7 separate regions of the Homo sapiens genome follow, and regions 2, 3, 4, 5, 6 and 7 are each reported to be linked to region 1. The links are microRNA targets in miRTarBase. Many come from high-throughput screens and were not tested one by one. Region 1 holds a microRNA gene; each other region holds the end of a gene's coding sequence.
Evidence for each region. Region 1 holds the annotated microRNA hsa-miR-520h (ACAAAGUGCUUCCCUUUAGAGU, at 2,628-2,649, opposite strand). A microRNA usually pairs through its seed, bases 2 to 8, with sites in the 3' UTR of a target mRNA and lowers its output. Matches are read on the target gene's strand: a 7mer-m8 pairs with bases 2 to 8, a 7mer-A1 pairs with bases 2 to 7 and ends in A, and an 8mer does both.

Region 1 (4,579 bases):
CCTGCAACATGGTGTAAACCCATGTGTATAAAAAATACAAAAGTGAGCCAGATGTGGTTGTGCATGCCTGCAGACACTAATTCAGCAGGATTAGGTGGGAGGTGGAGGTTGCAGTGAGCCGAGATGGCACCACTACACTCCAGCCTGGGCGATAGAGTCAGACCTTGTCTCAAAAATAACCAACCCCTTTGTAGGGACATGGATGAAACTGGAAACCATCATTCTCAGCAAACTATCGCAAGGACAAAAAACCAAACACCGCATGTTCTCACTCATAGGTGGGAACTGAACAATGAGAACACATGGACACAGGAAGGGGAACATCACACACCGGGGACTGTTGTTGGGTGGGGGTAGCGGGGAGGGATAGCATTAGGAGATATACCTAATGCTAAATGATGAGTTAATGGGTGCAGCACACCAGCATGGCACATGTATACATATGTAACTAACCTGCACGTTGTGCACATGTACCCTAGAACTTAAAGTATAATAATAAAATTAAAAATAAATATATAAGTAGGGATACAAAAATATGACAAAAAAAAAACAACCAAACACAGACACATGCAAACAAAAAATACGCAAGGTGATATCAGAGTATTCTCTGTATTTAGAAGAGTATTTTGTGTGTACATGATTATATTATATATGATAAGAATATATAAAATATACATGATATATTTTTGAGACCCTGTCTCAAGGAAAGTTCCATACATCGCATACTCACAGGAAGAATAATTCCTACACAAGTTCTTGCTTTGGTAGTGCACATAAAAAAAATTGGAATGACAGAGATTACCGTGGCTGCTCCACAAAGGTGACACTCAAATTCACGACGGTCCCGTATTTATCTACGTATTTTTATTTGTTTTATTTATTTTTGAGACGGAATCTTGCTCTGTGGCCCAGGCTGGAATGCCATGGCTTCATTACAGCTCACTGAAATCGCCTCCTCCTGGGTTCAAGTGGTTCTCCTGTCTTGGCCTCCCGAGTAGCTGGAATCACAGATGTGCACCACCGCACCCAGCTAATTTTTGTAGTTTTAGTAGAGACAAGGCTTTGCCACGTTGGCCCCGTTGGTCTTGAACTCCTGACCTCAGGTGATCCTCCCGTCTTAGCCTCCTAAAGTGCTGGGATTACAGGCGTGTGCCGCTGTGCCTAGACTATTATTTACTTTGTTGACACTGAGACTCACTCAGTTGCCCAGGCTGGAATGCAGTGGCGCAATCTCAGCTCACTGAAAGCTCAGCCTCCTGGCTTCAAGCGAGTCTCCTGCCTCAGCCTCCCGAGTAGCTGGGATTACAGGTGTGTGCAACCAGGCCTGGCTGATTTTTGTATTTTTAGTATGGACGGGGTTTCACCATGTTGGCCAGGCCGGTCTCGAACAACTGACCTCAGGTGATCCTCCTGTCTCGGCCTCCCAAAGTGCTGGAATTATAGGCAGGAGCCACCATACCTGGACTAGTCCCATCATTAAAATTAGGGGGAAACAAAGATGCCCACACCTAAATAGCGTATCATTTATTGTTTAAGCACATCTCAAATACATTGTTTATCTAAAACACAAGTTTAACTGAGGGCCGGGACGAACCAAAAAATGGTCCTTACTTTCTTCCTGCCTGTGCATGGGTTAATATTTACATGTAGTCCCATCTAACAAGGCCTGGGAGGGGCAGAGGCAGGAGGATCTAAGACCACTTTAGCCAGGGCAGCATAGTGAGACCCCCGTCTCATGCATTTATCTCCTGGTCATGCACCCAAGATTTCAGCTTCATTTCCCCAATACACACTGAAGCCCCATGCACTCCACCTCCGTGCTCTTGCTCATCCCATCTGCAGGGACACTGAGGTCCCCTCAACTCCACCTGACCCCATGTGAGGTTCTATACCAGTGCCAGAAAAATTTCCATAAAGTAAGAGGTGTTGATGGCCACGCACCATGGCTCACGCCTTTGGGAGGCGCGCGGTGGTGGCTCATGCCTGTATTCTCAGCATTTTCGGAGGCCAAGGTGAGTGGCTCACTTGAGGTCAGGGGTTTGAGACCAGCCTGGCCAACATGGTAAGCCCCATCTCTACTGAAAAAAAAAAAAAAAAAAATTCAAAACGTAGCCAGGCGTGGTGGCGGCCACCTGTAGTTTCAGCTACTTCAGAGGCTGAGGCAGGAGAATTGCTTGAACCTGAGAGGCAGAGGTTGGAGTCAGTCGGGATCATGCCACCGCTCTCCAGCTGGGGAAACGAGACTCCATCTCAAAAATAAATAAATGAATAAAAAAGAAAAATACAAATATTAGCCAAGTGTGATGTCGGGCCCCTGCAATCCCAGCTATTCAGGAAGCTGAGGCAGGAGAATAGCTTGAACCCGCGAGGTGGAGATTGCAGTGAGCCAAGATCGTGCCACTGCACTCCAGCCTGGGTCACAGAGGAAGACTGTCCCAAAAAGGACCATATGAGCCCAAGAGACCTAGGTTGGAAGTGCCTCTGTACTCCAGCCTGGGCCACAGAGACCCTGTCTTAGAAAACAAAAACAAAACAGAACCCCAACATCATCCAAGTCTGATAATAAGCATGCAAATATATTACCAACATCAGCATCAACTTCAACACTGCTTTTCCCAAACGGTAACACTCTAAAGGGAAGCACTTTGTTTTTTCTCAGACAACAAACAGAAAGTGCTTCCTCTAGAGGGTCACAGCATGGGATCTTCTTGCTCCAGCACTCTGGGTTTCTTGTTGGAATTTTCCTTGACCAGGTTAAAACGGATACAAAAATAAAAATGCATTTATTGGCCCTGTTTACATGTTTTATGGAATCCAGAACATAAACCCCTGAAAGGACCATCTCCAATTCCTTGCTTCAAAGGCTCAGCAGGTTAGCCTTGTTCATCAAGGGGCGATCGTCCTGAGTTTTGTCCCCAAAGAGAAAAAGGAATACCTACTACTCATACCTTACATTTAGCTAAGAGAATTGGGCTGATGTTGAAGAATATACATTGTCTCACACACAAACATCCTCCAGGATAGACCAGAGTCTAGGCTGACTCTAGAGGACCACGTGAGATTAGGGGCGGTGGCTCACGCCTGTAATCCCAGCACTTTAGGAGGCCAAGGCTGGTGGATCACCTGAGGTCGGGAGTTTGAGACCAGCCTGCCCAACATGGTGAAACCCAGTCTCTATTCAAAACACAAAAATTAGCTGGGTGGGGCAGTAGGCACCTGTAATCCCAGCTACCCAGGAGGCTGCGGCAGGAGAATCGCTTGAACCCAGGAGGTGGAGGTTGCAGTGAGCCTAAATTGCAACACTGCACTCCAGCCTGGACATCAAGAGTGAAACTCCATCTCAACAACAACAACAACAATAAAAATAATAACTAGCAGGACACGATGGCGGGCATCTCTATTCCCAACTATTCGGCAGGCTGAGGTGGGAGAATCGCCGGAAGCTGGGAGGCGGAGTTTCCGGTCAACAGGGATCCTGCCGCTGCACTCCAGCCTGGGAAACGGAATGAGAGCGCATCTCAAAAAATCAAAAATAAAAAGATCACCACTTGAGCCCAAGAGATCTCGGTTGGAGGTGCCACCCACTCCCGCCTGGGCAACAGGGAACCTGTCTTGGAAAAAAACAAACCAAAGAGAACCCCAACATCATGCAAGTCTGATGATAAGCACGCTCTGCAAATGTATTACCAAGATCAGCAGCATCTTCAACGTTGCTTTTCTCAAACAGTAACACTCTAAAGGGATGCACGATCTTTTCTTAGACAACAGACAGTGCTTCCATCTAGAGGGTCACAGCATGAGGTCTTCTTGCTCCAGTACTGTAGGGTTCTTTTTTTTGTTTTTGTTTTTGTTTCTTTTTGACGGAGTCTTGCTCTGTTGCCGAGGCTAGAGTGCAATGGCACGATCTCGGCTCACTGCAAGCTCCGCCTCCTGGGTTCAAGCCATTCTCAAGCCTTAGCCTCCCGGGTAGCTGGGACTACAGGCACCCACCACCACGCCTCGCTAATTTTTTGTATTTTTAAATAGAGATGGGGTTTCACCGTGTTAGCCAGGATGGTCTCGATCTCCTGACCTCGTGATCCACCCGCCTCGGCCTTTCAAAGTGGTGGGATTACAGGCGTGAGCCACAGCGCCCAGCTTTTTTTTTTTTTTTTTTTTTTCAGACGGAATCTCACTCTGTCATCCTGGCTGGATGCTGTGGCACAATCTCGGCTCACTGCAGCCTCTGCCTCCCGGGTTCAAGCAATTCTCCTGCCTCAGCCTCCTAAGTAGCTGGGATTACAGGTGCCCACCACCACACTGGGCTAATTTTTGTTGTTATTGTATTTTTAGTAGAGACGGATTTTCACCACGTTGGTCAGACTGGTCTCAAACTCCTGACCTGAGATGATCTACCTGCATCGGCCTCCCAAAGTGCTGGGATTACAGGCATGAGCCACCATGCCCGGCTTTATTTTGTATTTTTATTCATTTGTTTATTTTTTGAGACAGAATTTCCCTGTGTTGCCCAGGCTGACCATTTGAAGCCAAGAGATATATTGGACATGTCACTGCACTCCAGCATGAGCAACACAGAGCC
Region 2 (4,579 bases), not on the chromosome of region 1:
TCACTTAGCATGTTGTGAGAACTTTTTCTCATGTATAATCTTATTTATCATTTACTTAAATGTTCTAGTAGGTATTAACATTATTTTTCAATTTTTCATAATTACAAGTAATGCTATAGTCAATATAGCATTTCTCTTAATGATAAATTCCTAAGAGTGGGATCACTGAATTAAATGGCTTGAACATTTTTATGTGTCTTGGTATGTTTTACCAACTTGATTTATTAAATTTCTTATAGGCTTTTGCCAATTTATATTGCTAACCAACAATTTTATATGAATAGGCTGGTTTCACTCCAGTCTCACTGGCATTGGAGACCCATTCTTTCATTATTGCAAGTTCCTTCTAAGGGAGCATATTGCTTCTTCTAGTATAGCTAAAAGTCAGATGTTTAGATGTTAGATTTGTGAAGTGTGGAGTTAGAGAATGGCCTAAATCAGGACGTGTCAGCTATTCATTGAGTTCAAAAGATACACTAGTGTGTTACAGAATGATGACAAAAATGATCTCTGGGACTTTGCTAGATGTCTAACCTTAGCTCTTAAGTGCTTCAGAGGGTAATCAGCTTAAAACTAGCCATCTAAAAAGATGCCTTCTTTTTTCCCACCTCTCTTAAAAATATGTCTGAACTTTGAAGTGAGTTTACTGGGACCTGTGACCACTCCTGAACATCAGCTTCTCAAGACTCCTTCATCTAGTTCCCTGTCACAGAGAGTCCGTTCCACCCTCACCAAGAACACTCCTAGGTATGCAGAATTGGCCTTCCTAGGAAATAAAAAACAACTACTTTCTTAGACTTCTTATTATATTGAAGCTTATTGAAAGAAAAATTGCATTCGATTTTAGCTAGCAACTAGACTTTAAAAGGGAACGTGGGGCTATAAGGATTCCTTCTTTAAAAAGGTTCTGAAAGTCTTTACTATTTCCCCTCTCTCGTTGTTGGTGACTAAGAATACTTAAGCAACTATTGCAAAATAGTTGTCTAGGGTTTCCTACTTATAATGGGTTATATCAAGTAATATTATAGTTGTTTATTCAACCATTTTTTATAGAATATTTTTCCAGTTCATTCTCTTTTTATTGTAGATTTGGGAGCAAAAGCAAGTCTGCCACTAACCTAGGACGACAAGGCAACTTTTTTGCTTCTCCAATGCTCAAGTGAAGTCACATCTGCCTGTTACTTCCCAGCATTGACTGACTATAAGAAAGGACACATCTGTACTCTGCTCTGCAGCCTCCTGTACTCATTACTACTTTTAGCATTCTCCAGGCTTTTACTCAAGTTTAATTGTGCATGAGGGTTTTATTAAAACTATATATATCTCCCCTTCCTTCTCCTCAAGTCACATAATATCAGCACTTTGTGCTGGTCATTGTTGGGAGCTTTTAGATGAGACATCTTTCCAGGGGTAGAAGGGTTAGTATGGAATTGGTTGTGATTCTTTTTGGGGAAGGGGGTTATTGTTCCTTTGGCTTAAAGCCAAATGCTGCTCATAGAATGATCTTTCTCTAGTTTCATTTAGAACTGATTTCCGTGAGACAATGACAGAAACCCTACCTATCTGATAAGATTAGCTTGTCTCAGGGTGGGAAGTGGGAGGGCAGGGCAAAGAAAGGATTAGACCAGAGGATTTAGGATGCCTCCTTCTAAGAACCAGAAGTTCTCATTCCCCATTATGAACTGAGCTATAATATGGAGCTTTCATAAAAATGGGATGCATTGAGGACAGAACTAGTGATGGGAGTATGCGTAGCTTTGATTTGGATGATTAGGTCTTTAATAGTGTTGAGTGGCACAACCTTGTAAATGTGAAAGTACAACTCGTATTTATCTCTGATGTGCTGCTGGCTGAACTTTGGGTTCATTTGGGGTCAAAGCCAGTTTTTCTTTTAAAATTGAATTCATTCTGATGCTTGGCCCCCATACCCCCAACCTTGTCCAGTGGAGCCCAACTTCTAAAGGTCAATATATCATCCTTTGGCATCCCAACTAACAATAAAGAGTAGGCTATAAGGGAAGATTGTCAATATTTTGTGGTAAGAAAAGCTACAGTCATTTTTTCTTTGCACTTTGGATGCTGAAATTTTTCCCATGGAACATAGCCACATCTAGATAGATGTGAGCTTTTTCTTCTGTTAAAATTATTCTTAATGTCTGTAAAAACGATTTTCTTCTGTAGAATGTTTGACTTCGTATTGACCCTTATCTGTAAAACACCTATTTGGGATAATATTTGGAAAAAAAGTAAATAGCTTTTTCAAAATGAACATGAGGCTGGTTTTCTTGTCTTGCAAGGTAATTTTCAATGCCTTTTAGAAAATCATTTCTGGGGCTGGGCTTGGTGGCTTATGCCTCTAATCCCAGCACTTTGGGAGGCCAAGATAGGTGGATCACCTGAGGTCAAGAGTTTGAGATATGGCCAAACTCTGTCTCTACAAAAAATACAAAATTAACTGGGCGTGGTGGTGCACACCTGTGGTCCCAGCTACTTGGGAAGCTAATGTGGGAAAATTGAGCCTGGGAGGCAGAGGTTGCAGTGAGCTGAGATCGTGCCACTGCACTCCAGCCTGGGTGACAGAGTGTGAGACCCTGTCACAAAAAAAAAAAAAGAAAAAATTACTTCCTTCAAAGTGTCTTGACTCTGTTGTTCATCCCCATTTCCCACTCTCTGGACCCACCCCAGGCTTACCACCACCGGGAGTTTGTTTCTTCATTTCTCATCCAGTCTCTCTTTGTCCAAACTGGAGTTGTAGAGTTGTCCTATGCCTGTTGTCTTGTTTAAAGAAACCACAGTCATGAGTTGCATAATGACAGGGATACATTCTGAGAGGTGCTTCATTAGGTGATTTCATTGTTGTGTGAACCTGAGTGTCCTTAAACTAACCTGGATGGTGTGGCCTACTACACACCTAGGCTGTATGGTATAGCCTATTGCTCCTAGGCTACAAACCTGTACATCATGTGACTGTTCTGAACACTGTAGGCAGCTGTAACGCATGGTAAGTATTTATGTATCTAAACATAGAAAGGGTACAGTAAAACTATGGTTATTATAATCTTATGTGACTACTGTTGTATATGGGATCCCTTATTGATCAAAACGTTATGTAGTGTGTGACTGTACTTAAAAAATAAAACAACAACAACAACTTTTTAAACAAGTCTTTAGGGACCAGAATGGTGCAGATAAAAAAAAAAATTGCCTCTGGCTGGCTGACTGCCTAGAACATCCTTCACTGCTGGAAGTGACTTTGGAGTGAGCTGGGATGATTAACTGAGGGCACCTGCACTTGGAACTCTGAAGCTGGTGAACAGAATGTATCTGAGATTGAACGTAAACAGTTGTAGGCTTAATATGTAACTGTGGAGAGAGGAGGCAACCTACTGGCTTTTTTCCCAGGAGGGGGCAGCTTCACAGCAGGGCCCATCTGCCTCAGCAAATTGACAGAGGATGGGTCCCATACCCCCTTTCACACACGCCTGCTAGGCCTTGTTTTTTAAAACTGCCCTAGATGCTACCTCTTTTCTTATGTCTTTGCAATCCTAGCGTTGGCCTGGTTCCATATTTGCTGTTCTGTAGTATCTCCCCAAGGTGCATTTTCAGTCACTAATGTAGAGGAAGTAAATGGATTGTGTAACATTAGTGAAGGCAAGGCTACCCTATGCAGGAACCAATGGTCCATTAACGAAAAAGGAAATGGTCCTGTGTGTCAAATGTTGGCAACCATTTGCTCAGTTTTTGGGCTAGGCCAAGAGACCTTAGCCATGAAAATAATTCTGATAATAGCAAAGGGAAATATATACCCACCTTCAACTTCTTTAACAGTACTTCCTGCGGAACAGCCTGACTTTCCAGGGCCTTCTTAATTATACCTCCTCAATGTGAGGGCTGTGGAAGGGGGTCCAGTGCTTTGGAGTAGCCATCAGTCCATCTCTTACTCCTAACCCTTTCTGACATTCCTCTCTTTTAATGCAGTTTAATTTTACTATCGCACTTGCTAATAAACAGAATCTTTAAGTTGTGATATTTACCTTTATTCTCCCTGATCTATGTAAGACTCCCTAGTTTGATGTTTATCTAACTGGGCAAGCATTACATGGTTGGATTCAGCTGCAACAATTTGAGTTTATTACTGGGTGTTTAACAACTTATCCTTCCTTAAGAGGGTGAATTCATTGCTTGCAGAGATAGAAGAAGGAATGTGAGTTTTGGTCAGAGGACATTTAGGGTGCGCAATTGATTTACCAGGGGAAAAAAGTACTCATTTTTGGTTATGAACTGAGCCTGTGGCATTGAAATTGGTCTTGTGTTCTTTTTATTTTATTATTTATTTTATGCCTCCCAAGTAGCTGGGACAACAGGCATGCCCCACCATGCCCAGCTAATTTTTAAATTTTTTATAGAGACAGGGTCTCACGATGTTGCCCAGGTTGGTCTCAAACTTCTGGACTTAAGTGATCCTCCTGCTGCAGCCTCCCAACAAAGTGCTGGGATTACAGGCATGAGCCATTGTGCCCAGCCAGTTCTTGCATGCTTAAATTATTAGGCAGCACAAAATGACAAGGAGAGCTGAGGG
Region 3 (4,579 bases), not on the chromosome of region 1:
TATGCTGAAGTGTTTAGAAGTGAAATGTAATGATGTCTGCAACTTACTTTGAAATACATTAATAAAATGGATAAATGAATGGATAGAGGGATGGATAGGCAGATTGACATGTGTAAAACAAATAGAGAAAAATGTTATTTGTAGAATCTAGGTGATGCTAAAGGCCACACAGCCAGTGGGGACTGAGCCAAGCTAGGAATCCAGGTCCACCAATTCAGGAGAGGCTATGTGGTGAAGTAAAGATAACACCCCGTTCCCAGTTTTTGTATCTGTTTTTGTTTTGAGACAGAGTCCTGCTTTGTAGCCCAGGCTGGAGTGCAATGGAGCCATCTCAGCTTACTGCAACCTCTGTCTCCCAGGCTCAAGTGATCCTCTTGCCTTAGCCTCCTGAGTAGCTGGGACTACAGGCATGTGCCACCACGCCTGGCTAATTTTTTGGTAGAGATGGGGTTTCACTATATTGCCCAGCTGGTCTCAAACTCCTGACCTCAAGTGATTAACCAGCCTCAGCCTCCCACAGTGCTGGGATCACAGGTGTGAGCCACCGTGCCCGGCACCAGTTCCCATTAATTATCTTGGAACCCAAGGATTCAAAGAAGCAGTCTTTTCAAAGAGATATTTGAGTCACTGACCACCAGTCCTGGAATGCAGAAATGCTTAGTCCCACCTACCTCTTTTGTTCATTCCTTCAAAAGTTTCCTCTTCAAAAGTAGGGCTAGCAGATCTAAATGGGCCAGAAAGAACTCTCTTAACTGTTGTTTTTTGTTTTGTTTTGTTTTTTGAGACTGGAGTCTCACTTTGTCGCCCAGGCTGGAGTGCAGTGGCGCGATCTCAGCTCACTGCAAGCTCCGCCTCCCGGGTTCATGCCATTCTCCTGCCTCAGCCTCCCCAGTAGCTGGGACTACAGACGCCCGCCACCATGCCCGGATAATTTTTTGTATTTTTAGTAGAGATGGGGTTTCACTGTGTGAGCCAGGATGGTCTTGATCTCCTGACCTCGTGATCCACCCACCTCAGCCTCCCAAAGTGCTGGGATTACAGGCGTGAGCCACCACACCAGGCCTTTTTTTTTTTTTTTTTTTGAGATAGAGTCTTGCTCTGTTGCCCAGGCTGGAGTGCAGTGGCGCTATGTTGGCTCACTGCAACCTCCACCTCCTGGGTTCAAGCCATTCTTCTGCCTCAGCCTCCCAAGAAGCTGGGATTACAGGTGCACGCCACCAGGCCTGGCTAATTTTTTTTTTTTTTTTTTGAGACGGAGTCTCGCTCTGTCACCCAGGCTGGAGTGCAGTGGCGCAGTCTCGGCTCACTGCAAGCTCCGCCTCCCGGGTTCACGCCATTCTCCTGCCTCAGCCTCCCAAGTAGCTGGGACTACAGGCACCTGCCACCACTCCTGGCTAATTTTTTTGTATTTTTAGTACAGACGGGGTTTCACCATGTTAGCCAGGATGGTCTCGATCTTCTGACCTCGTGATCTGCCCGCCTCGGCTTCCCAAAGTGCTGGGATTACAGGTGTGAGCCAACGTGCCTGGCCGTTTTTTTTTTTTTTTTTGGTATTTTTAGTAGAGATGGGGTTTCACCATATTGGCCAGGCTGGTCTTGAACTCTTGACCTTAAGTGATCCACCCTCCTCAGCCTCCCAAACTGCTAGGATTACAGGCGTGAGCCACCGCGCCTGGCCTTCATAACTGTTGACATACAAGCATTACAGTAAAAATTAGACTGGAAAGACTATGCCTTGATTTCAACTTTAATCACAATTAATTTATTCTTTCTTTAAAAAAAAAATGTAATCCCAGAACTTTGGGAGGCCAAGTCGGGTGGATCACCTGAGGTCAGGAATTGGAGACCAGCCTGGCCAACATGGTGAAACCTGTCTCTAGTAAAAATGCAATTAGCCAGGCATGGTCGTGGGTGCCTGTAATCCCAGCTACTCAAGAGGCTGGGGCAGGAGAATCGCTTGAACCTAGGAGGCGGAGGTTGCAGTGAGCCAAGATCATGCCATTGCACTCTAGCCTGGGCAACAAGAGCGAAACTCCATCTCAAAAAAAAAAAGAGGCTGGGTGCAGTGGCTCACGCCTGTAATCCCAGCACTTTGGGAGGCCGAGGCGGGAGGATCACGAAGTCAGGAGATCGAGACCATCCTGGCTAACACGGTGAAACCCCCGTCTCTACTAAAAATACAAAATATTAGTTGGGCGTGGTGGCGGGTGCTTGTAATTCCAGCTACTCGGGAGACTGAAGCAGGAGAATGGTGTGAACCCAGGAGGTGGAGCTTGCAGTGAGCGTAGCTTGGGCCACTGCACTCCAGCCCAGGCAATAGAGACAGACTCTGTCTCAAAAAAAAAAAAAAAAAAAAGAATCCTCCGGCATTATATCTCCAGCTACTGTGGCCCAAGAATATATCTTTATCAAAAAATACAAAATCCAGGGAACATGCAAATATCTGAAGAAGAAAAAAACACTGCAATCACTAATGCATACAGTGAAGAGTTGGCCCAGTTCCAGAGTCCGCTATGTTTGATAGTTTGTGCACTTGCAGAATGAGAGTGGGGGGGGAGTTCCCCACCTGAGGCCACTGTCCTCTCTATGGCCACCTCTAGGTCTTCAAGACCAAGGAACACCTACACTCCAGGTGTCTCCTTGCCAGATGTTTCACCTGCATTGGTAAAAGGCAGAATCCTCGGCAGGGGTCGGTGGCTCACGCTTGTAATCCCAGCACTTTGAGACGCCGAGGCGGGTGGATCACGAGGTCAGGAATTCAAGACCAGCCTGGCCAAGATGGTGGAACCCCGTCTCTACTAACAGCACAAAAATTAGCTGGGCCTGGTGGCGCATGCCTGTAATCCCAGCTAATGGGAAGGCTGAGGCAGAGAATGGCTTGAACCCAGGAGGCAGAGGTTGCAGTGAGCCGAGATCACGCCACTGCACTCCAGCCTGGGCGACAGAGCATGACTCCATCTCAAAAAAAAGAAAAGAATCCTGGGATGAGCTCCGCCCCCCCCACCAGCCGAGGGACAGGCCTGAGGTATCCCCTCTATTCTGGGGGGTCCAGAGTGGGTGCAGGCTCCTTTAATAGGCACTGGAATGTAGGGGACCCCATCTCAGAGGAGTAGGAGAGATACAGGCCAAAAAGCAGAGAGCTACAAGGGAGAGAACAATCATGAAGGAAAAGCCAGTTAGGTGAATGGTTTTCAGTGAAGGATGGGACGTGAACACGGGGCCCTGTGTGCTGGAGCTTCAGAAAATGGGGTCAACCCCCAGGCACCTTTTCAGATTCCTGCCTCCTCCCCACAGCCCTCTGTGCCCCTACCTCTGCTTTTTACCTAAGGCAGAACTTTGTTTTCCTCAAACGCCCACTTCCTTTCCTTATCCCCCAAATACACAAACCTTGCCTCTTCCTCTCCAGGGAAACGCTGACCAGTTTGTGTGAACGCCATCACCCACACTCTTGAAATATATCTGGAAAGTGCCGGAAGTGAACTGGGGGATCCTTGCCTCCCAAAACAGGGATGGGCTCTGAACGCCCCACCACGGCCTGCTGCCACGCGCGCCTCTCGCTGCAGGAGCGGTGGATCCACCGATGGGCTTCCAGGGCGGTCTTGCGCTTGAAGCCTTTCCCACACTCCACGCAGGGGAAGGGCCGGCTGTCGGAGTGAATGCGCCGGTGACTGAGGAGGAGGGAAGAATAGGTGAAGCGGCGGCCGCAGTCAGGACAGGGGTAGGGCTTCTCGCCGGTGTGTATGCGCCTGTGGATGGCCAGCAGGGAGGTGTAGGCGAAACGGAGGCTGCAATCGGGGCAGCTGTAGGGCTTCTCGCCCGTGTGCTTGCGCTGGTGGATGGCCAGCAGGTAGGGGTAAGTGAAGCGACTCTTGCAGTCTGAGCACGCGTAAGGCTTCTCCCCGGTGTGAGCCCGCCTGTGGATAGCCAGGGAACCCCTCTGGCGGAAGCGGCGCCCGCAGTCGGGGCAGGGGTAGGGCTTCTCGCCGGTGTGGATGAACTGATGCTGGAGCAGGTACCTGCGCTGGGAGAAACGCGCCTGACACTGGCCGCAGGAGAAGGGCCGCTCCCCGGAGTGGACCCGCTGGTGGCTGGCCAGGAGGGAAGGGTAGCTGAAGTTGCGGCCACAGTCTGGGCAAGAGTGGGGCAGTCTTCGGGTCAGAGTGTCCTTGAGCCAGGGATTCATGGGGCTCTGCCTAGGGTTGCAGAACTCTGGGCAGGCGACGCTGGGCCACCACTCCTTGACAGCCACTTCATGCGCCACCTCTTTTTGTTTTGGACACTTCTTCAGCCTTTCCTTCTCCTCATTCCCATCCCTGGATCCTGAAACAGGGAAGATGATAAAATCAGAAACTCATCCCTGGATCCTGAGACAGGAAAGATGATAAAGTCAAAACCAGCATATTCCGGGACCATGTCCTGCCTTGGAAGGCAGCAGGAATGGTTCAGAATATGGCGCCCAGGGAGCACGGCTTAATGATAGGGGCCTCATGAAGCCCTGAAAGCCAGCCTGGAGTAAAAGCAAATGCCATGGTCTGCAGGTTAACACAAGAAGGCCCTGAGCACTGGAGATAATGAAAGA
Region 4 (4,579 bases), not on the chromosome of region 1:
ATAATTTACTCTCATCTGCTGATTCTGACCCAGGGATGTTCCTCTAGCCCACTTCAGATAAAGCAGGCAAGTAGCTAGGACTGAAACATGACATAATCCGAGGTATGAGGTGTATCTGAGGCACAATCGCCACTCCTTTTCAAATATGCACAATGCCGGTCATATCAAGCCATCTCTCCCTCCTCTCTGCTCATTCCTGAGTCAGCCATGAGGTGAGTTGTGATTTCCTAATGGTGTCCTGAACCAAAATGCAGGACACCCAGGACACCATTTAGACTTGCCAGGCCCACGGAGATGACAAAAAACTCAGCTCAGCATGGAATAACGTGAGCTGCGCACTTCATCGACAGCCTGCGTGTCAGAGGCGGGGTTACATCCCCACGGCCTGGGGCAAGGCCCACTCCCTAAGCCCTCAATTATGAGCAGGTTCTGTGCTATCAAGAAGACACACAGCCAACAGCCTCATTTAGGCTCTTGAGCCTTTGGAGGACAAGTCAGCTGTATCCCAACCCTCCCTAGCCTCCTGGATCTCTGCTTCTCTCTGGGCAGGAAATTGAATACTCTCCCAGCAAGATCACACAGACACATCCATGGAAGAAGCTGAGATGAAACATGACTCTCATAAACAGGAACTTTATTAAACTACATGTTACATAAAAGAACATATAAATGGACCATTAAATACATTCAGTTTATTTTAAACAAATTTACATAGATACTTATTTACATTTCTCCATTGTATTCTTAAATTATTTTTCCAAGCTTACTACCGATAAAAGGTAATACAATGATCATCTGCTCACACAGATGCATAGAGAAGTTGTCCACAGGGCTAAGTAAAGCACCACTTCCCAGGAAACACAGCTTATTAGATCTTCCAGCAACAACTCATGCTGAAGGTGCTCTCTTCTGAGCAGCCCTTGAGGTGAGGCTTTTGCTTTAGAGATGCTGGGGGTTGGTTCTGAGGAGCTGACCCAGGGCAGAGATGGGTCCTTGCTGATTGACCTGACTTGGACTCACAGAGGTGGAAAGACCTGTGGAGACCATCATCGAGGCCATGGCCCCACATCTGTGATATGGGAAACAGGCTTGGGAAGAGGTGGTGACTTCCCAAAGTCACCCAGCATCCATGATAGAGGAAGGGCCTGGGAGCTTGGTACCCAGGGTTCCTCCAAGAGGTCCCGATCCCTCTGCTATCCACAAATCCACAAACTTAGAATCACTTGCATCCATTTTCCACCACCATGGACCTTATGCTTTGAACTGTTTTGTCTACCTGATTAAATATATAACTTCTTAGGCTTCTTGAGATGGTGAAAAGCAGCTCAGGATTCCCATAAGCAACTTTGTGGAGCCCTGGAAATACCTACTCAGGGCTGTTTTTACAAGAGGTTTTGTGGTCAGGTGCTTTACTATTTCAGCCATAACGTTTACCTTTAAAACTCAGCTGACTTATGGAAGCTCAGCATTTCCAATTCGCTTAGATGACAGGCAACAGTCTGCAGAAGGGAGGTTCTAACGTCAACCACGTGGATTCCCCACAAACGCATCATATTTGCCTAAATCCATCTATCTACCAATGTCAGATCTAAAATGAGGTTTCACTAATAAGTGACCTAAAATTAAAAAAAACACAAAAAAGTTTCTTAAAAAAAAAATTCCAAGAATTTCCCCGTTTCCCAATTAGTCTCAGAGGAGTCGTGAAATGGGCATTGGGTAGAAAAAGTCCCATGTTTTCAACTGTTTCTTTTGAATAAAGCCTGATTCCCCCACTCTGCCCCCGAACTTTTCCCGATGATATACATTCTTCTGAAAGCAATTTCATGCTTTTAGTCTGCTTTAAAAAACCTGACTTGGTTCTTCTCAGTATTTAAAAACCACTGTACCAAGGAAGAGATGTCCACGTTAAAAACTATTATTAAGAGACAGAGACAAGGAGAGAGAGACTCTCTCCAGGCCATGTTAGAAAAGAAGGAAGTGCTGGGAGCACACAAAGAGAGAAGAAAGGCTGGGAGACAGAATGGTTTGCACCTCCCTGTAACCAGAGTGAACACAGGTCATAGCAGCCTTCACTCAGTTTTATAACAGACACACGAATGGAGGAACATGGGATTGGAAAGACGCACACTGTCAAACAGCCCTGATGCCTTTCCACTAAAATATGGCACTTCTAGATTCCAGAGAAATCCAGCATTCTACCAGGGGCTGCCACCCATCTGCAGGGAAGCCTGCCCTGCAACCATGAGGCCCTCAAGGCTCATACTCCACTGCTCACAATGCGCGCCCTGAATACATGGAAGCATCTGATTTCTGTCTGAGTCCAACTTTCCCTCCTGTTCCTAGACAGACTCACACCCAGAGTCATGCACGGAGAAGTGGGCAAGCCAGACAATCTTCAGGGAGACACAGCCCATCACAGGATACCCAAGGCTTATGGGGAAGTCCAGTTGCCAGCAACGGACCCTGTGTGGGCAGGTGAAACTCTGAAGCCAGAGAACACAGGAAGATAAAAATATCTTCATACTGAGGATATACTGGCCAAGTGTGGTGGCTCACACCTGTAATCCCAGCACTTTGGGAGGCTGAGGTGGGAGGATCACTTGAGCCCAGGAGCTCGAGATCAGCCTGAGCAACATAGTGAGATCCCATCTCTACAAAAGATAAATTAAAAAAAAACAATTAACCAGGCGTGGTGGTGCACGCCTGTAGTCCCAGCTCTGAGGGAGGCTGAGGTGGGAGGATCACTTGGGTCTGGGAGGTCAAAGCTGCAGTGAGCTATGATTGTGCCACTGCAGTCCAGTCTGGGAGACAAGAGCACGACCCTGTCGCAAAAAAATACATATGTATTTTTTTCCTGGGAGGCATTTCACTCTGCAAAAGGAACCAAAACTAGAACATTTCATTTTTGTTTTGTTTTGTTTGAGACAAGGTCTCACTCTGTCATCCAGGCTGGAGTGCAGTGGTGGGGTCCTGGGCTCAAGTGACCTTCCCATCTCAGCGTTCAGAGTGGCTGGGGCCACAGGCATGTGCCACCACACTCGGCTAAATTTTGTATTTCTGATAGAGACGGGGTTTCTCCATGTTGCCTAGGCTGGTCTCGAACTCCTAGGCTCAAGCAATCCACTCATCTTAGCCTCCCAAAGTGCTGGATTACAGGCATGAACCACTGCACCTAGCTAATTTTTATATTAAAAAGAAAGTCTTTGATATATAAAAACTGGCCTGAAAAAAACTTTTTTGACTTGTTTCATAAGAATGTCACTTTACACTCCTACTAAATCTTTCTCGGGATCCGGGCTTTGGGGGAGGGTGGGGTGCATGGGGGAGGTGCGGCCGTCACAGTAGTGAACGTGCATCCATCTGGACGCTGGACTGCAGCAGGGCTCAGCACAGCAGGCTGCAGTCCACAGGCCTCCTGGACTGTGCCATCCCAACAGCGTCACTAGCAGTGGCACCAGTGGCTGCTTTATCTGTAACAAAGACATGCTGCCTCTTTCCCCATCCTCGTCCCAGAAGTCAGTCTTCACCGTCTGAATCCCAGGAGGCAGGAGAGGACAGGCACCCATCACTTCCGTAAGGGATTGAGGATTCTCCCCAGCGTGGTCCGACTGGAGTCCTTCCGACGGAGGGAGGCCCTTTCCCCAGCCCCTCTGGCCTTCAGAGGGGCCTCCGTGTTGGCACTGGGACCCTCCGCAGACTCTGGGCGCTTCTTGGGGGCCCGGGCACTGCTGGCTCGCCTCAAAGTGCTGCTGTCCTTGGGAGCGGCATCCTCGGGGTCCCCTTTCACCCTCAGCTGCCGCTGCGACACTGTCCGAGTGATGCCGGGGGCTTTGGCCACGGGAGGAAGATCTGTTCTCATGCTTCGAGAGGAGGAGGCCACTGTGTTCCGGGCAAAGCTCGGGACACGGGGTAGTTCGTGGGGGACGCTGGGCACTGACGGGGTCTTGGGCTCTTCTTTGGGACTCTCAGGGCCCTCGGAGTGGGCGCGGCAGGTCTTATTTTCCTCAGGCTTCTGTCTGGGGAGGTTCCTGAGTGGTTTGGCACTGGGCTTCTTGAAAGAACCCCTGGGCTGCAGGGGAACGTCCCTCCCCGGACGGGTGCTGCTGGAGCCGCTGCTCCCCCGCGGCAGCCTCTGCTCTTCGGCGCCTGTGGAGGCCCTCCGCACGGAGTTCTGGCGTGACCACACAGTATCTGTGCTGCTGGGGGGATTCTGGGAGGGCCCCCGGGATGACAGCTCTGGTCGCCTCCAGCCGGCGCCTCTGCTGGACTTGGTGATGGGCATGACCTTGCGCATGCTCTCGTTCTCTGAGGCGGTCAGGGTCCGCACAGACTTGGCCACTGCCCCCTGGCTCCGCCGGGCGCTCCCGGGCTTGGAGGCCCCGGGAGACGCCTCTTTCAGGGAGCCTCTCTTTGGTGCTACAACATCTTTCCTTTTGGTGGGTTTGTCCCTGGGCAGGCCGCCCTTGCAGCTGGGCTCACTATCCACAGAGACGGGGGCAGGAGCCTCCCCAGGGGGGCTGGATGTAGGGTTGGAGGAGACTTGGCTGTCCCCCATTTCTCCAACCCCAGAGGACATGGA
Region 5 (4,579 bases), not on the chromosome of region 1:
TACATCTTATACCTGAAATGCGGTAGGTATTTCAGAATGAATGAAGGCTGTATGAAGAGGAAATTAAACTTTCTCCATTTTCTAAGCTATTATTATTATTTTTTTTTTTTTGTGAGACGGAGTCTCGCTCTGTTGCCCAGGCTGGAGTGCAGTGGCGCAATCTCAGCTCACTGCAAGCTTTGCCTCCCGGGTTCACGCCATTCTCCTGCCTCAGCCTCTCGAGTTGCTGGGACTACAGGCGCCCACCACTACGCCCGGCTAATTTTGTGTATTTTTAGTAGAGACGGGGTTTCACCCGTGTTAGCCAGGATGGTCTCGATCTCCCGACCTTGTGAGCCGCCCGCCTCAGCCTCCCAAAGTGCTGGGATTACAGGCATGAGCCACCACGCCCGGCCAAGCTATTGTAACTTTTCTAATGCATTATTTGTGTTCGCCTCTAGGTGGTGATGATGGGCCTTTTCATCTACTAAAGTGTCGCTAAGGATTAGAATAAATTTAAATTTTTCATAGCCTCTGGCCTAGAGGTCTAGGCTTCCTTTCTTATATGATATCTAAAATCTCCTTTAACTCATTTCTTCTTCTTCCTGCAGGAGGAAAAAACATGGGCCTTTACCAAAAACATTTTCAGTATACCATCTCAGTCTTCACAACCCCTTAACTAGGATCATCATCTCCATTTTGGCTAAGTGAAAACAGACTCAGAGTAAACTGCCCAAATCTCACAGCTGTAGTAAGTGGAACCCAGATAAGAAATATAGGTTTAGCCATAAACTACTGCCCCTCCAACAGACTTCTTTGATTTTATCAAAGAAGTGAATTGTTCTCTCGAGGCTTCAAGAGAATTCCAAGTTTTGAGTTGATAATTTGCGTTTCAGAGATCTCCAGGCTGTCTGCCTCTTTTTCCAACAAGTTCTCTTTTTCACACAAGTACACGCCCCCTTCAGGGAACATTCTTCCAGAAATCCAAAGTCCACTAACAGCATTTCCTGTCCTAGGTGCAGGGAAATGTGTGAAGTCTGGCTGCAGTGCCCAAGAGATAAGAATCTTCTAAGCTGGCTGTTGTCCAGACTTGCCATCCTCATTGTAGTAAAACACTGGCCAGGAAGACAAAAGTGCATCTGTGAAAGGAAACAGAAAGTCATCTGGTCTTCAGGGAAAGGAGGATTTCAATTTTTCCTCTGGGCCCAGGACTAAGGTGAGAGAGGTCTGACACTGGAAGCTCTTTAAATGCAATCTGAGGGCCGGGCGAGGTGGCTCATGCCTGTAATCCCAGCACTTTAGGAGGCTGAGGTGGGGGGAATCACTTGAGTCAGGAGTTCTAGACCAGCCTGGCCAAAATGGCAAAACCCCATCTCTACTAAAAATACAAAAATTAGCCGGGTGTGGTGGCATGCACCTGTAATCCCAGCTACTTGGGAGTCTGAGACTTGAGAATCACTTGAACCCGGGAGGCTGAGGTTGCAGTGTGCCAAAATCATGCCACTGCACTCCAGTCTGGGGGACAGAGCCAGACTCCGTCTCTAAATACATAAATAAGATCTGAAAGTTGGGGAAGTTAGGGGCATGAAACTGACTCATACAAAGTAAGTCACTCTAAGATTTGGAATCTGACATCAGGTTTCACGAGTCTTCTAATTTTCTTGCTATACTGTATATAAGCTTTCACTTCTAAGGACATTATTTTATTTTGTCAGACGGAGTCTCACTCTGTCACCCAGGCTGGAGTGCAAAGGCGCGATCTCGGCTCACTGCAACATCCGCCTCCCGAGTTCAAGTGATTCTCCTGCCTCAGCCTCCCGAGTAGCTGGACTACAGGTGTGCGCCACCACGCCCAGCTAATTTTTGTATTTTTAGTAGAGACGGGGTTTCACCATGTTGGCCAGGATGGTCTTGATCTCCTGACCTCGTGATTCACCCGCCTTGGCCTCCCAAAGTGCTGGGATTGCAGGTGTGAACCACTGCGCCCAGCCCATTATTTTATTTTTTATTTTATTTTTGAGATGGAGTCTCCCTCTGCCTCCCAGGCTGCAGTGCAGTGGGTGATGTCAGCTCACTGCAACCAGCACCTCCCAGGTTCAAGCGATTCTCCTGCCTCAGCCTCCCGAGTAGCTGGAATTACAGACACATGCCACCAGGCCTGGCTAACTTCTGTATTTTTAGTAGAAACGGGGGTTTCACCATGTTGGCCAGGCTGGTCTCGAACTCCTGACCTCAGGTGATCCACCTGCCTCAGCCTCCCAAAGTGCTGGGATTACAGGCGTGAGCCACTGTGCCCGGCCAGGACATTATTTTACACAGAGGCAAAACTCCAAGTAGTACAAACTTAGCTCAATTTTGACAAATTTGTAAGATCAGATAAATATGTTCAGAGATTTTGAGGGCATACCCCCTCCTTTCATTACAAATCTCAGATTTTAGTCCCTTTTATTTAAACCAGATTAGCAAAACTGAGAAAGTTTATCAGAACACGGAGTGGTATACCTGAGAACACAGCAAACACCTATGTCATTGCTTTGTGATTATGCGCATCAGTGTATTTCTTCCTCCAATAACAGAATATTCTGTTCTCCAACTTGTAACCATGCAACATTCACTGAGAACTCTTTTTTTTTTGAGACAGGGTCTCTGCCACCCAGTCTGGAGTTGCAGTGATGTCGGCTCCCTGCAACCTCTGCCTCCCCAGGCTCAAGCGCTTCTCCTGCCACAGCCCCCTGAGTAGCTGGGATTACAGGCGTGCGCAACTACCGCCTGGCTAATTTTTGTACTTTTAATAGAGGCGTGGTTTCACCATGTTGGCCAGGTGGGTCTCAAACAGCTGGCCTCAAATGATCCACCTGCCTCGGCCTCCCAAAGTGCTGGGATTACAGGCGTGAGCCACCATGCCTGACCACTGAGAATTCTCTTAAGAGCTACCTGGGACTGCCACTCCTTCTCTCCTCTGAAGCATATGACTACTAGTGACTATAATGCAGAAAAGGGCAAAGTTTTAAGAGTAAATTGCACAGTTGCTTCTAGAGGGCAAACAAAGTTAGTTTTAATCTACTGCTTCCCTATTCAGCTGACTCAGCTAATAATTCTTCAGCCTGACTACAAAGTCCAAAACAAGCCTAGCTTTGCTTCCTGTCATGCTAGGAGTCATAGGTTTATAGATGACTACTGCGGTTGGATTTGAATACAATCCTTCTTCCCTTGGATTAGAAAAATTCAGGTCTAGAGACTGTCAAAGATGGTGCTTTGTTTCAAACACTTGGCTCTGTGGGACTATCCAAGCCAAGGAAAATGAGGTAAGTTGAATTATGACAGAAATCTTTATTAAAATGTGTCTTTCAGTAATATGTTTAGCATTCAATATACACACATACATATGTACACTCTTTGACACACCTCATGGATTGCTGCCATCAGTTTAACCAATAAATTAAAACTAAAAAGAGGGAGGGGAGGGGAGGGGAACTAACGGCAAACTTTTCATGTTTTATCTGGTAAGAAATTGTGAATTTCTCAGAATTTCCCTGGGCAAAAACCTGTGACCAGAGAATCTGTGAAATAAAATACATAAATCTCTACCCCTTGGAAAAAAAAAAAAAAAAATTCCAAAAGATGCAGTTACAAGTGTGCTTCTCAGAACAGGAGCATTCATTCCACTTCATACTCTGGCTTCTCCACCTTCTGGCTTCAAGACAGTTTGTCCCTCGGCTAGGGCAGAGAGGTTCATATGGGCACTTGGGCTCGGTGCACCTTGGGCTCTGGGGGTCGAGGGGCAGGCTGCAGTATGGGAGCGGGGGGAGCCACACTCATCTGAGGTGATGTCTGGCACATCGTCTGACTGTGCATCAGAACTCTCTAGGTCACTGCGGATGCTTTCAGGCTGGGCCAGGCTGATGTCCCAAGGTTTGCTGGCCAGGCAGTCTTTCTGTTCACAGCTTTGGTGTCTGCAGGGGGGATCCTCTTCACTGCCTCCGCCACCACTACCTTCTTCTTCATTCTCTGCCATCTGAGCATGAACATGGAGCGAGTCCTCCGTGCTGCTTCCACTCACCAGCTGATAGTGGCTTGGTTTGGCTTCAATGTCCACTTGGATTTCCATATTGTTGCATTCTCTGTGGAGACAAAATCCACTTTGCTGAGTCATGCATGGATCATGCTAAACCTGTTGGTAAAAGCAGTTCATGGGTTCAGGATTAGGAATTTCAAAAAGATAGGTGAACAGTTAACTAGAGCTCACTTTTAACAAAAATAACATTTTAATCTAACACTCAAATGAGATGGAGGCTGGACGTGGTGGCTCATGCCTATAACCCCAGCGCTTTGGGAGGTCGAGGTGTGAGGACTGCCTGAGTCCAGGAGTTTGAGACCAGCCAGGGCAACAAAGTCAGACCCTGTTTCTAAAATAAAAAAAATTAGCTGGGCATGGAGGCACGTGCCTGTAGTCCCAGCTACTCGGGAGGCTGAGATGGGAAGATCACTTGAACCCAGGAGTTCAAGGCTGCAGTGAGTTATGATTGTGTCACTGCACTCCAGCCTGGTTGACAGAGCAAGACCCTGTCTCTAAAAAAACAAAAATAAAAATAAATGAGAT
Region 6 (3,000 bases), not on the chromosome of region 1:
CCTTCTCAACGCCATTGACGCACTCTTCAGTTGTGTCAGCTCAGCCCAGCCCCCGCGAATCTTCGTGGCACACAGCAAGTTTGTCATCCTCAGTGCACACAAACTGGTGTTCATTGGAGACACGCTGACACGGCAGGTGACTGCCCAGGACATTCGCAACAAAGTCATGAACTCCAGCAACCAGCTCTGCGAGCAGCTCAAGACCATAGTCATGGCAACCAAGATGGCCGCCCTCCATTACCCCAGCACCACGGCCCTGCAGGAAATGGTGCACCAAGTGACAGACCTTTCTAGAAATGCCCAGCTGTTCAAGCGCTCTTTGCTGGAGATGGCAACGTTCTGAGAAGAAAAAAAAGAGGAAGGGGACTGCGTTAACGGTTACTAAGGAAAACTGGAAATACTGTCTGGTTTTTGTAAATGTTATCTATTTTTGTAGATATTTTATATAAAAATGAAATATTTTAACATTTTATGGGTCAGTCAACTTTCAGAAATTCAGGGAGCTGGAGAGGGAAATCTTTTTTTTTCCCCCTGAGTGGTTCTTATGTATACATAGAAGTATCTGAGACATAAACTGTACAGAAAACTTGTCCACGTGCTTTTGTATGCCCATGTATTCATGTTTGTTTGTAGATGTTTGTCTGATGCATTTCATTAAAAAAAAAACCATGAATTACGAAGCACCTTAGTAAGCACCTTCTAATGCTGCATTTTTTTTGTTGTTGTTAAAAACATACCAGCTGGTTATAATATTGTTCTCCACGTCCTTGTGATGATTCTGAGCCTGGCACTCCCAAATCTGGGAAGCATAGTTTATTTGCAAGTGTTCACCTTCCAAATCATGAGGCATAGCATGACTTATTCTTGTTTGGAAAACTCTTTTCAAAACTGACCATCTTAAACACATGATGGCCAAGTGCCCAAAAGCCCTCTTGCGGAGCAAATTTCAGAATATATATGTGGATCCAAGCTCTGATAGTTCAGGTGCTGGAGGGAAGAGAGACCTGTGTGTTTAGAGGCCAGGACCACAGTTAGGATTGGGTTGTTTCAATACTGAGAGACAGCTACAATAAAAGGAGAGCAATTGCCTCCCTGGGGCTGTTCAATCTTCTGCATTTGTGAGTGGTTCAGTCATGAGGTTTTCCAAAAGATGTTTTTAGAGTTGTAAAAACCATATTTGCAGCAAAGATTTACAAAGGCGTATCAGACTATGATTGTTCACCAAAATAGGGGAATGGTTTGATCCGCCAGTTGCAAGTAGAGGCCTTTCTGACTCTTAATATTCACTTTGGTGCTACTACCCCCATTACCTGAGGGAAACTGGCCAGGTCCTTGATCATGGAACTATAGAGCTACCAGGACATATCCTGCTCTCTAAGGGAATTTATTGCTATCTTGCACCTTCTTTAAAACTCACATATGCAGACCTGACACTCAAGAGTGGCTAGCTACACAGAGTCCATCTAATTTTTGCAACTTCCTGTGGCCAGTGTGTATAACCCCTTCCACTATCTCACAGATAGTCACAGCGTCCATTCCATAGTCTGTCTCCTCACATCTGTTAGTATTGACACAGCACAGACACCACAAGCCATCAGGTTCTTCATGGGGCAGGTGAAATACTTCTACCCCATGGGTAAATGTATTCACATATTACCAAGAGAAGAAGCACATTATCTATGATCTTTTGGCCCAGTTCTTATTTAGCATTTTTATTCCAGCCTACTTGGAAACATGTTTTTATTTGCAATATATGCCTGACTGAATTAAGCTTGCTTGTTTTAAACAACCAAATCATTGGAACAGAAAAGGATTTAAAAAACAAGAATGCATGATCTCAGAGTGATTAAAAAAAAATCAGTGGAAATAAATGATCATAGAAGGTGCTTTTCAAAACAACTGCTATTATAATTCTCAAAGTCCTACTCTGCCAAAAGAAGATTAAAAGTCATACATTACATTACAAGGAAATGTTCATGTGGGAAGAGGGTTGCTGAAAATCAACAACGCTTGAAGTTAAAAAGTGTGTCTTTGTAGATTTCATTGTATAATGTGTATTTCTTAGGAGATGGCTGACTTGATTGATCTACGCTAAGTGGAGACATTTCACATTTTTAAAACCAAATGTTCAATCTGTATTACTCTTTGCCGTCTTGTATGTAGAGGCTATTTTTAAATCATTAAATTTTTAGATCTCTGTTTTCATAGCCACTGGGTTTTCTTTTTCATACTCCTCTGTCACAGAATTAAATATTGGCTTACTTTGGTACTCCTAATATAAAAAGTTAAATTATGATTATTTTAGCAATGCTATAGGTCTGGATTTTTTTAGGAAAATTGAGGGTTTGGTTTTCTCTGTATATGTGTCACTTCCAAGTGTATTTGCATTCAAAGAAAATTCTAGAATCTGTGAACATTATCAAATTCAAATATCTGGAACAAGACTTGTGTTCACCAAAAAACCCATACACTCAGTAACATATAGGATGATTTGTTTTCATAATATGGATGTTACCAGTCATGTGGTTTTTAGAATCAAAGAAAATTTTTCTATTTGTTTTGGAATAGTCATAAAGAAATAATTTAAAGCAAACTATATTTAATGAAAATAAGAGATTTGTAATCATGTAATTATCATTTTTAATGGTTGGCCCACTCTTTTATTCAGGTATCCCACTGAGATTTACAGACAAATTATTTAAATGTATCATGTACCATTTTGCCCACACATATAAGCATTAATTTATTTTTGACAAAATGTCAAGGCACTTCAAGGAGGGAATGAAAACTCTTCCGAAAAAAAAAGTGGTGCGGGAACAACTAGATCTATGAAATAAAATGAATGTGTACCTTACGTTCTACCCAAAGATTAACCCAAATGGATCATAGACCTAAATGTAAAACTTAAAACTCCTAGAAGAAAACACAGGAGAAAATCTTTGTTATCTTAGGTAGACAAAATTTCCATATTTGAAACACTTTAAAAACTTAACTCAGAAA
Region 7 (4,579 bases), not on the chromosome of region 1:
GGCTGAGTAGTTCAGTAAGCATGTCTGTGCCTCTGTCCCCTGTTGAGCTGTGCATTTTTTTGTTTTTAAGACGGAGTCTCGCTCTGTCGCCAGGCTGGAGTGCAGTGGCGTGATCTCGGCCCACTGCAAGCTCCGCCTCCCAGGTTCACGCCATTCTCCTGCTTCAGTTTCTGGAGTAGCTGGGATTACAGGTGCCCGCCACTACGCACCCGGCTAATTTTTCTTTTTAGTAGAGACAGGGTTTTACCATGTTGGTCAGGCTGGTCTCAAACTCCTGACCTCAGGTGATCAGCTTGCTTCAGCCTCCCAAAGTGCTGGGATTACAGGCGTGAGCCACCACACCTGGCCCATTCTTTTAAATAGGAAATTTCTACCTTGTAAACAGAGACCATTGCAAAATCTTCTCAACCTCCCAGTGTGCCCAGTACACAAATCACCCATGTCTGGGCCTGCTGACCCGGGACAGTCTGCTTTAAACACCCACCCTTGCTGGGGTGGGGGGTGCACCTAGATTGCAAATCCCTGAATTCATGGCTTGGGTTCTCATGGATGGTGAAGCTCTCTGGGGAGTTTGGAGCCATTTGTGTCTCTGGCCCTTGCAGGCTGGCTGAGCAGGGTGTTGGGCCGCCTGCCGCCGAGCCTAGTGTGAGAGCACTGGTCTGGGGCAGGTGCTGCCCACCTGTCGAGCTGCACGCAGGGGAGGGAACGGTGTCCTCCTGTAACCGCACACTGCCGCTCCTCCTCACTTGTCCTTATGGTAAGGTAGCAGTAGCCGCCTAAATGGGTTTTATGGCAGCTCATCCACTTATCCTTTATCAGTGTTTATCATCAGTACCTCAAGCAGCCATGACTATGGTGTTATTACAGATACGTGTGGACCGCCCCGCCTTCCGAAGGCACCTTTAACTTGTGATGGGAGCCAGCTGTCACTTTCTCACCCTCATCTTGAGGGCTTTTCAGAGGACTAGAGATCAGGCCCTCAGATGTTTCATTCCATGGCTGGCTTCCTCTCCTGCCAGGGTCAGCATGGTTCCCAGCCACCCGTGGCCCAGAGAGATGCTCATAAGATGCACGTTTGCTACTCCTCCCCATGTTGTTTTTAAAAATGATATGATTATAGGATGTACTGTGTGAAAGTTACAAACACAGTTTTTGGTGCCGACAGATAAATGATTCTCTTGAGTGAATTACAAGGATATGTATAGGTTGAGAAGTGTTTGCATTTACTTGCATGGCCAGGTTCAGTGGCCGGTAGCTAAAGTGAGTCAAGTAGCTTGGGTATTTGTGTCACCATCCAGGATGTAACAAAGCCCCTGGGTCTCTTTGCTGAGTGCTCCGTGGTAGAGGCAGTGCTCTGGGCTCCCCTGCCAGCCCTGCCCTTATGAGCAGGCAAAGCATGGTGGACCAGGGTGTTGATGAGGATGAAACGGCCATGCCTGCTATGTGGCATCAGGAGGAGCTGGGAAAGGGAGACTCACTGCATCTGAGCCTCTCGGGGTTATTTTAAAACCTGTTGGTTGGTGTGGTGAAGGGGACCGCTGCCCTCTGCCCTAAACTTGCCCCTGCATGGCTCTCAGGGACAGAGCTCTTGTTAATACGGTATGTTAACTGTGTCTTCCTTTCACCCCCAAACAGGAACAGATTATCAGTCTGGTCAATCAGATCTGCGGCAAAGTGTCTGGTAAAAACGGCAGCATTGAGAACTGTCTCAGTAAACCCACACCAAAAAGAGGTCCCCGCAAGAGAGCGACAGTGGACGTGCCCCCCTCCCGTCTGTCAGCCTCCAGTTCATCCAAAAGTGCTTCGAGCTCATCATGAAGATGCCAACGCCCGTGGTCGATTTATATATATTTTTTTGTAATTATTATATTCTAGTTTGGAGTACTTGCTGTAGGATTCAAGCTGTCTTTGCACTAGCTCTAAAGAAGATTTTCTTCTGGTTTTAGAGAACTAATTTTGTTTTAGCATTAAACTGTTGAACTTTTTTTTGTACTTAGAAAACCTAGATACTGCAGTCAGATTTTGGAAACTGCCGTATAGTCACTGTTTTAAAAACCCCGGAGGGGCTGTATTAATTTGTATTGCCCCATGGCTGACAAAAGCCTTTTTTTTTGGTTTTGATTTTTTTTTTTTTGTAACTGTTGGGGGGAAAAAGGCTTTTTAACCCATTTTTGAAGAGGGTGAAGTTTGGAGAACAAATTTAAAAACCATCAGTCATGTGAGCAGATTTTTTAGAAGGGATAGGAGACACACGCGCACACACACACACACACGAAACTTGAAATGGCTTTGCTTTGGCTGTCGTCTTCTGCCGTGTGCCAGATGAGCTTGTGATCTGGGAAGCCGGGGCACCCCCGTTTTGTTTCTCTGGGCGGTTGTGGCAGCTGAAGGCGGACGTTGTTTCCTAACCATAGGTGGAACGAGGAGACGGGAGCGAGTGGGCTCTCCACCAGCACATCACTATGCATCTGTTCCAGGAAAGAAGAAAAGCGAGCGAGGAAGACGGAAAAGACTGCCTGCCTTGGAGGGGTCACATGAGGGAGACCTGTGCCTGATTTCATTAGGAAATCCATTCTGTTATTTTTTGGTGCTGTTGGCTACTTTATCAAAAAACCCTTCAATAGCATCCTTAAGATTTAAAAAAAAAAAAAAAAAAAAGGAAAAAAAAGTGATGGAAGCCGTAAGTGCTTCTTTGTCATCGACGTGCAATCTTTCTAACATTCCATCTCCATCTCACCGCTTCTTGTTTGACACCTTCACAAGTCAGCATTAATCTTTCTTTTAAAACTTGTTTCATTTATGATCATGTAGAGAGCCACTAGGAGGCCTGCAGTTATTTTTGAATGTGAAAATGCATTTGCGTTCATCTTGTCTATTTTTTCTCTTCATGTTGTAACAAAAAGGAAAAAAGAAAAAAAAATCCCATCCCTTTTGTACATATGCCTGTAAATTGTTTTAAATACTTGAGCCTTTTTCTCGGTGGGGGGTGGGGAGGGGGGTGAGAAGACAAGATGAAGAAAAGCCTTACATTTCAGTTTCTTCATCGGTTGGATTGGATGCTTACAGGGTTTTTCTTGTAACATTTATAAGTGCTGCTTACATCACTGAACAACAACAAAAAAATAATAATGGAGTAGCTGTTGCCCTTCTCCGGTTGTGTGTACAGTATGTGTGGAATAAAAAAGGGAAACTGTTTTCACAAGCTGTTCTTTGTTTCATAATTGGATTCATCAATCCCGTAGCTACCCATATTGCACTGAGCTTGCCAGTGGTGACTGCCAGGAACGTCCTATGATCCACTTTGTTGGTTGTTGTTGCAGAAGACTGAACTGTTTTGGAATATTTAACAATTACAGAAACAGTCAAGTGTTTTCCAATGTGGTTGTCCGGTTTCTATGGCCTTGCTGTGTACTTTCCCTCTTTTTGACAGTAAACTTCTGCCTATGGCTTACAGTTTGACATTTAATTTATTAGCGCTGCTCTGCACCCCTCCCTTGGGAGGGAGACTTCATGTGGTTTATTGCGAGTTTTTTGTTTACTTTTCAGGTTTGTACTACAAGGTTTAATAATAAAAACAAAGTTTTTTGGACATTTGTCTGTCTTGTGGAAGATGACTGAATGGAATGAGCTCTTTCTTTTCTCGTCCACGGGCAGGGGGCAGAGGATTCCCCCCAGCCAGGGAGCAGAGCCACCCCCCACACTGCAGTCCTGCTCCCACCTGCCACTGGGTCCCCTTCAGCCTAACCTAATGGTTTCCATGTGGCCTGCGGCCGTCCCCCTCATTTCCCATCGAGCTGCGCCCCCCTGCTGAGCTTGCTTTCATGATGAGACGACACTGGGTGCATTCAGGGTGGTATGGCTGCAGACAGACAGACCCCCTCATCCCGGCGGGGAGTCTGTCCCCTCTCTCTCATTGGGCTGGAGGAGTGATGGCAGGAACACATCTCCAGGGGACCAGTTTCTTTTCATAAAGAATGGAGGATTGCTTTGGGCTTGTTTCTGTTCTTTTGGGCCCAGGAGTGTGAAAAAGTAGGGGTTGGACTGGCTGGCTACTGGACTAATGATACTTACTTACTTCTGTAATGATCAACGGAAAACCCCAAGCTTTGCCAGAGTGGTTTGGCTACAGTCAGCTCTTCTACAGGAAGTGGCATTTTCCACTTGTGAAACGGTAGGTCATTCCCTGCCTCATGCAGAACTCAGCCCTGTGGAGCCTCCACCACCTGGCCCAGGCCCTGCCCACATGCAACCTCCCGGGGTGGCCCTCAATGACCTGCACGTCCCTTCACTCTAAGGAACCCTGAGTTACAGTGGCCTTAAGGACATGTGTATTTAGAAGCCTTTGTGTACAAACTAGCTCTGTGCGCTCTCAGTTTACCGTCCTCACACTTTATTGTTAGCTGTTCTTTAAGTTTCTCACACATTATTGGCAATTATGTAAAAATCAAGAACCTCTATAAAACAACCTGGCTTTCCAGGTGGAATTCCGCATACAGCCAAAACTGGATTCCAGTGTGGCCAGACAACGCCCATGTCCCAATTTAAGAGTCGCTGTCCTCACCACCATCCGGAGTGGCCT

Region 2: the mRNA of RACGAP1 is a reported target of hsa-miR-520h. Seed matches in the 3' UTR shown: 7mer-m8 at 1,359-1,365 and 7mer-m8 at 2,069-2,075.
Region 3: miRTarBase lists ZNF785 as a target of hsa-miR-520h. The part of its 3' UTR that is shown has no 7-base or 8-base seed match.
Region 4: miRTarBase lists FHDC1 as a target of hsa-miR-520h. Seed matches in the 3' UTR shown: 7mer-m8 at 3,139-3,145.
Region 5: the mRNA of RNF19B is a reported target of hsa-miR-520h. The part of its 3' UTR that is shown has no 7-base or 8-base seed match.
Region 6: the mRNA of NEDD9 is a reported target of hsa-miR-520h. Seed matches in the 3' UTR shown: 7mer-m8 at 1,285-1,291.
Region 7: the mRNA of JARID2 is a reported target of hsa-miR-520h. Seed matches in the 3' UTR shown: 7mer-m8 at 3,298-3,304.

What each region holds. Positions count from the first base shown.
Region 1 is chr19:53,720,290-53,724,868 of GRCh38, reverse strand. MIR520G (microRNA 520g) reads right to left here and starts at 2,703; the gene lies at 2,614-2,703. MIR517B (microRNA 517b) reads right to left here and starts at 3,793; the gene lies at 3,727-3,793.
Region 2 is chr12:49,986,852-49,991,430 of GRCh38, reverse strand. It overlaps RACGAP1 (Rac GTPase activating protein 1), which reads left to right. Exons shown (of 17, transcript NM_001319999.2): 16 at 639-747; 17 at 1,088-2,269. The coding sequence ends at 1,163. Among named protein-coding and RNA genes, the nearest start is that of AQP6, 16 kb to the right of the region's middle.
Region 3 is chr16:30,579,124-30,583,702 of GRCh38, forward strand. ZNF785 (zinc finger protein 785) reads right to left here. Exons shown (of 3, transcript NM_152458.7): 3 at 1,533-4,320. The coding sequence ends at 3,437. It also overlaps a transcript of ZNF688 not described here. Among named protein-coding and RNA genes, the nearest start is that of ZNF785, 4.3 kb to the right of the region's middle.
Region 4 is chr4:152,975,710-152,980,288 of GRCh38, reverse strand. It overlaps FHDC1 (FH2 domain containing 1), which reads right to left. Exons shown (of 12, transcript NM_001371116.1): 12 at 618-4,579. The coding sequence ends at 3,566. Among named protein-coding and RNA genes, the nearest start is that of FHDC1, 42 kb to the right of the region's middle.
Region 5 is chr1:32,933,160-32,937,738 of GRCh38, forward strand. RNF19B (ring finger protein 19B) reads right to left here. Exons shown (of 9, transcript NM_001300826.2): 9 at 3,290-4,100. The coding sequence ends at 3,647. Among named protein-coding and RNA genes, the nearest start is that of RNF19B, 29 kb to the right of the region's middle. RefSeq lists a silencer at 929-1,223 and an enhancer at 929-1,223.
Region 6 is chr6:11,182,505-11,185,504 of GRCh38, reverse strand. NEDD9 (neural precursor cell expressed, developmentally down-regulated 9) reads left to right here. Exons shown (of 7, transcript NM_006403.4): 7 at 1-2,207. The coding sequence ends at 343. Among named protein-coding and RNA genes, the nearest start is that of NEDD9, 49 kb to the left of the region's middle. RefSeq lists an enhancer at 1-481.
Region 7 is chr6:15,518,434-15,523,012 of GRCh38, forward strand. JARID2 (jumonji and AT-rich interaction domain containing 2) reads left to right here. Exons shown (of 18, transcript NM_004973.4): 18 at 1,636-3,609. The coding sequence ends at 1,818. DTNBP1 (dystrobrevin binding protein 1) reads right to left here. Exons shown (of 10, transcript NM_032122.5): 10 at 4,374-4,579. The coding sequence ends at 4,542. Among named protein-coding and RNA genes, the nearest start is that of DTNBP1-AS1, 25 kb to the right of the region's middle.